2 linked regions of the Homo sapiens genome follow. Changing the gene in region 1 together with any one later gene gives a genetic interaction. Each region holds a gene or a part of one and is shown on either strand. Other genes may lie near its edges.

Region 1 (3,657 bases):
AGACCAGCCTGGCCCACATGGTGAAACCCCATCTCTACTAAAAATACAAAAATTAGCCAGGCGTGGTGGTGCATGCCTGTAATCCCAACTACTCAGGAGGCTGAGGCATGAGAATCACTTGAACCCGGGAGGCAGAGGTTGCAGTGAGCCAAGATTGCATCACTGCACTCCAGCCTGGGCAACAGAGCAAGACCCTGTCTCAAAAACAAAAACAAACAAACAAACAAAAATATATATATGCTTGAAAATTGCTAAGAGAGTAGATTTTAGTTGTTCTTACCACACAAAAAAATAAGTATTTGCGGTAATGGGTATATATTTGAGGTAATGGATTTGTTAATTAGCTTGATTTAGCCATTCCACAATGAGTACATCTATCAACACATGTTGTACATCATGAATATACACAATTTTTATTTGCCAAAAAATGTTTAAATATGCCATAAGTAAATTAAATAAAATAAATTTCTTAGAACATTATTTATAAAAATAAAGCAAAAAACCAGATCTGTCCAAATATAACTAATAAACTGACTCTCATTATTTAACACTCAAGAGTTGGCTGGCATCAGGATTTTCATAATACCATGGCCATTAAACAGTTTTCGTGAATCCAGGCCTTCGTTACCCATCTCTTCTGCTTCTTCCTCACCTTACTGACTTCTTTCTCATGTACACAGAGTGCGGAATATCTGTCTCATGAGTCACCAGCCTTTGGGCAGAACCCAAAAAATTAGGTGAACTAGAAATATATTGTTGCTAAGTGGCTCGGTTTATCAGACAATTCTAAAATGCCTACTAGGCTGCCTAGCTGCATACTTTTCTGCCTAATGTACAGGACCTCCATCTTGTGACTGTCAAAACAGGCTCCTAAATTATTTTGCATCATTTGGTGACAGGCAGTCTATACTCTTGTGCAACCAACAGGTGCCCAATAAATGCTTGGAATATGCAAGGAACTTGGCATTGTTTAATATAATTGAAAAAGCAAGCATGGACTTTGAAACTTTCCTGAATTTGAATTCTGTCTCCACTCCTTATCACCTTTAAGAATTTAGGGCCTGGTGCGGTGGCTCATGCCTATAATCCCAGCACTTTGGGAGGCTGAGGCGGGTGGATCACTTGAGATCAGGAGTTCGAGACCAGCCTAGCCAACATGGTGAAACCCCATCTCTACTAAAAATATAAAAAATTAGCCGGGCATGGTGGTGCATGCTTATAATCCCAACTACTTGGGAGGCTGAGGCAGGAGAATCGCTTGAACCCAGGAGGCAGAGGTTGCCGTGAGCCGAGATCCCACCATTGCACTCCAGCCTGGGCAACAAGAGTGAAACTCCATCTAAAAAAAAAAAAGAATTTAGGGAAGTTATTATCTTCCTGCATCTCCTTTCTCCTCCTATGTAAAATGAAAATAATAATGTCTAATTCATAAGCGTTTCATAAGGATATGATGAAAGCCCGATGCAGTAGCTCACGCCTGTAATCCCAGCACTTTGAGAGGCTGATGTGGGTGGGTCACTTGAAGTCAGTAGTTCGAGACTAGCCTAGCCAACATGGTGAAACCCTGTCTCTACTAAAAATACAAAAACTAGCTGGGCATGGTGGCAGGCGCCTGTAATCCCAGCTACCCGGGAGGCTAAGGCAGGAGAATCGCTTGAACTCAGGAGACTGAGGTTGCGGTGAGCTGAGATCGTGTCACTGCACTCCAGCCTGGGCAACAGTGCCAGACTCTGTCTCAAAAAAAAAGCCCGGGCATGGTGGCTCACGCCTGTAATCCCATAATCCCAGCACTTTTGGAGGCCAAGGTGGGCGGATCACCTGAGGTCAGGAGTTCGAGACAGCCTGACCAATATGGAGAAACCACATCTCAACTAAAAATACAAAATTAGCAGGGCATGGTGGCGCATGTCTGTAATCCCAGCTACTCGGGAGGCTGAGGCAGGAGAATCACTTGAACCCAGGAGGCGGAGATTGCAGTGAGCTGAGATTGCACCGTTGCGTTCCAGCCTGGGCAACAAGAGCGAAACTTCGTCTCAAAAAAAAAAAAAAAAAAAAAAGTGATACCACAACAGCTAGAAGAGGAGGCCAAACTGTTTTTTTTTTTTTTTTGAGACAGAGTCTCGCTCTGTCACCCAGGCTGGAGTGCAGTGGTGCGATCTCGGCTCACTACAACCTCCGCCTACCTGGTTCAAGTGATTCTCCTGCCTCAGGCTCCTGAGTAGCTGGGAGTACAGGCGCGCGCCACCACGCCCAGCTAATTTTTTGTATTTTTAGTAAAGACGGGGTTTCACAGTGTTAGCCAGGATGGTCTCAATCTCTTGACCTTGTGATCCACCTGCCTCGGCCTCCCAAAGTGCTGGGATTACAGGAGTGAGTCACCGCGCCCAGCCCCCATTTTACATTTTTTTATTTGTGCCCACTGCCTTTTTTCAGAGGATGCAGTTAGCAATTTCAGCCACTGGATGGTGCAAATTCACAAGAGTCCAGTGAAAGTTCCTCAATTACGGTCCAAGGTGCACCTGTTGCTACACTGCACCAAGTGAAGGAGGGTGGGGTAAAGGAAAGACTTTTTGGATCTGAAATTTCAGTATAAACATGGATCGAAGTTCACTAGAAGTTCAGATTGAGGGAAATTTTTAGAATTTGATCACTGACAAATCAGGTCATTGAATAAGGAAAGACAAAAGAAAAGTGTTGTAATAATGAAGAGGAAGAGAAAAAGGAACAGATGATGAAATATGAGGGAAAATAAGTCTAAAGAGATGAATTCAAGTGTTAGCAACAATTATAGTATGACCCTTTACTGGTTTGCATCTCCCTGGTAACTGATAGCAACTTTGATATAAAAATAAAGCTTACTTCATTCTCTTCTAGAAAGTCAGCTATGCTACCCTTAGCTTATCCATTTGGTGGTGTGACATTATCAACAAATATTTTTAGTATCTGCTATGAACATGGTGCTTTGTTGATACAAAGTAATATAGAGATATACAAATTAACACAGATACTGGGCTTCAAGCAGAAGAACCAGTAAGTACATATAAGAAGATAAGTAATTGACTGGATTAAGAAAATGTGGCACATATACACTATGGAATACTATGCAGCCATAAGAAAGGATGAGTTCATGTCCTTTGTAGGGACATGGATGAAGCTGGAAACCATCATTCTGAGCAAATATCGCAAGGACAGAAAACCAAACATCGCATGTTCTCACTCATAGGTGGAAATTGAACAATGAGAACACTTGGACACAGGGCTGGGAACATCACACATCAGCGCCTGTCGTGGGGTGGGGGGATGGGGGAGGGATAGCATTAGGAGAAATACCTAATGTAAATGACGAGTTAATGGGTGCAGCAAACCAACATGGCACATGTATACATATGTAATAAACCTGGACATTGTGCACATGTACCCTAGAATTTAAAGTATAATACTACTACTACTATTACTAATAATAGGGAAGATAAGTAATTCAAGGCAACCTGAGGGCCATTGTGTCAACTCAGAAAATGGAATACTTTTTGAAAGTGGGAGTGGAGTATCAGTGGGATGGGGAGGAAGGGATCATAGGACTCTCAACCTGTCCAGGGCAAACAAAAAATAAAAAGATTTCTTCTGGCCTTTAGTCATAAGTACATGCAGCAACTCTTC
Region 2 (2,860 bases), on another chromosome or scaffold:
GATTCCTTTCCAGTCAAGTTGACACCTAAAATTACATCCACAATTCCACCCCTTATCAACTTGGCACCCAGACTCATCTCTTTAAACCATTTTTAATTTTCAAATGAAGACAATAACAAGGTCCTAGCTTTTCCTCACATGATGCAATTAACCAGACGCGACTATCCTGCATACAACTCAAAGAGTGCTAATCCTTTTGCCAGAATTCAGCTTTCAGAATTTCATCATTCAGAATTCAATCTTTTTTTTTTTTTTTTGAGATGGAGTTTCGCTCTTGTTGCCCAGGCTGGAGTGCAATGGTGCAATCTTGGCTCACCGCAACCTCTGCCTTCCAGGTTCAAGTGATTCTCCTGCCTCAGCCTCCCGAGTAGCTGGGATTACAGGCATGTGCCACCACGCCAGACTATTTTGTATTTTTAGTAGAGACAGGGTTTCTCCATGTTGGTCAGACTGGTCTCGAACTCCCGACCTCAGGTGATCCACCTGCCTTGGCCTCCCAAAGTGCTGGGATTACAGGCATGAGCCACCGCGCCCAGCCAGGATTCAATCTTTTGGAACTGTGATTTTCAAGATATTAGAAGTTCAGGCTTTGGACTTTAGAGATTTTGATTTTTTTATGATTTCAACATTGGGATTGTGGCATTTGGGATTGTCTTTTAGGATTATGATCAGCACTGGAGTAAAGCATGCAATTGAGCTATCTCTGAAAACTCAATGTAAATTTCCATAGTGTGCTTTGTACTAATTTTTGCAAAATTTTTAAGGTAATTGGAATTATCAATCTTCCACTAAAATAGCAATTTTTAAGTGGCTTATTTTAAATAGTTGCTAAATTTGCTAAAATCATGTATCTAAAACACTACGCATAATATATGACAAAAATAAATGCTGGGAAAAAAATAAAAGGATTTGTGGTAAACAAGGCTGACCAACCTTTAGTCTTAAGAAAATATCTGGCTGGGCGCGGTGGCTCACGCCTGTAATCCCTGCACTTTGGGAGGCTGAGGCAGGTGGATCATGAGGTCAGGAGATCAAGACCGTCCTGGCTAACACGGTGAAACTCCGTCTCTACTAAAAAATACGAAAAATTAGCCAGGCTTGGTGGCGGGTGCCTGTAGTCCCAGCTACACAGGAGGCTGAGGCAGGAGAATGGCGTGTACCCGGGAGGCGGAGCTTGCAGTGAGCTGAGATAGCACCACTGCACTCCAGCCTGGGCAACAGAGCGAGACTCCATCTCAAAAAAAAAAAAGAAAAGAAAATATCTGACGTTTACAACATCTAAATGTTTGCTACAAATTTATTACTAGAGAATACAATATTTAGGTAACATGAAGCAAAGAAAATATTTGACTCTTACGATTTCTAACTGTTGGCCATAATCTTCACTTTCTATGACCTTGATCAGTGGCTTGAGCTTTTCTTTCAGCTTCTTGCCTTCATTGACTGGAAGGATGAACCGAAGCCTCATGTGAGCACGTTCTATCTTCATTTTCTCTTTTAACTGCTTTATCACTTCCAAAGCCTACCAAGACAAAATCGAGAATGCAATTTCTTCTACTATATTATTTCATAAGGTTTTCAAAAACAAAGTAGTTTCCATGTAGTTGGATTAGGTAATGGTTTCTTAGGTATAACATTAAGAACATAAGTGACCGTTAAAAAAAAAATAGAAAAATTGGACTTATCAAGAAGAAAAGCTTTTGTGTTTCAAAAAACTATGAAGAAAGTGAAGGCCAGGTGTGGTGGCTCACGCCTGTAATTCCAGCACTTTGGGAGGCCGAGGCGGGTGCATCACAAGGTCAGGAATTCGAGACCAGCCTGGCCAACATGGTGAAACCCCGTCTCCACTAAAAATACAAAAAAAGAAAAATTAGCCGGGTGTGGTAGTGCACGCCTGTAATCCCAGCTACTCAAGAGGCTGAGGCAGGAGAATTGCTTGAATCCGGGAGGCAGAGTTTGCAAAAAGAGGGCGGGGGGGGTGGGCAAAGAACCTGAACAGAGATTTCTCAAAAGAAGACAGACGAGGCACCAATAAGCACATGGAAATATGCTCAAATCATCATTAAGGAAATGCAAATCAAAACCACGACAAGATACCACCAGGATGGCCATCATCAAAAAGGCAGACAATGACAAGTATTACTGAGGATGTGGAGAAACTGAACTCTTAAACACTGATGGTGGTAAAGTAAAATGGTGCAGCTGTTTTAGAAATAGGTTTGGTAGTCACCAGGTATACAGAAATGAAAACATATGTCTACACAGAAACATACAAGAAATTTTATAGCAGCATTGCTCATCATAGCTCAAAAGTGAAAGCAACCCAATGTCTATCAACTGATAGATGAATGAACAAAATGTGTTTCTTTCCGTACAGTGGGCTATTATTCCGGCATAAAAAAGAAATGACATGCTGATGCAGGTTACAACATGTATGAACCATGAAAAGGCCACATATTGTATGATTCCATTTATATGAAATGTCCAGAATTGAGAAGTCCATAACGAGAGGAGATTAGTGGTTGGGAGGGGCCTGTGGGGGGAAAATGGGGGATGGCTACTAATGGATACTGACTTTCTTTTTGTGGTGATGAAAATGTTCTCGAACCAGGTAGCAGGGAAGGTTCCAAAACTTTGTTAATATACCACTTAAAGTGTACATACTTTATGAGTGTGAAATTTATGGTATGTGAATTATATATAAATTAAAAAATTCAAAAAGAAGTGTTAAAATGACCCTTTAAAAACTCAAGTTTTGTCTTTAAAAGTTTGATTTGGATAGGAAGAAGAAAGTCCTATATACATATTTGTGTTTACTTGAAAAAAAAAAATTACCTATCTTTACAACCCCGTCCTTTTC

Evidence for each region.
Region 2: changes in ACACA (region 1) and SBDS together harm fitness less than expected from each alone (positive genetic interaction), as found in Homo sapiens cells (one large-scale study listed by BioGRID).

The regions. Positions count from the first base shown.
Region 1 is NC_000017.11:37,396,682-37,400,338, reverse strand, and holds part of ACACA (acetyl-CoA carboxylase 1), read left to right. Parts: intron 1-3,657. UniProt on the Homo sapiens protein: Cytosolic enzyme that catalyzes the carboxylation of acetyl-CoA to malonyl-CoA, the first and rate-limiting step of de novo fatty acid biosynthesis.
Region 2 is NC_000007.14:66,989,780-66,992,639, forward strand, and holds part of SBDS (ribosome maturation protein SBDS), read right to left. Parts: intron 1,523-2,860; coding exon 1,358-1,522; intron 1-1,357. UniProt on the Homo sapiens protein: Required for the assembly of mature ribosomes and ribosome biogenesis.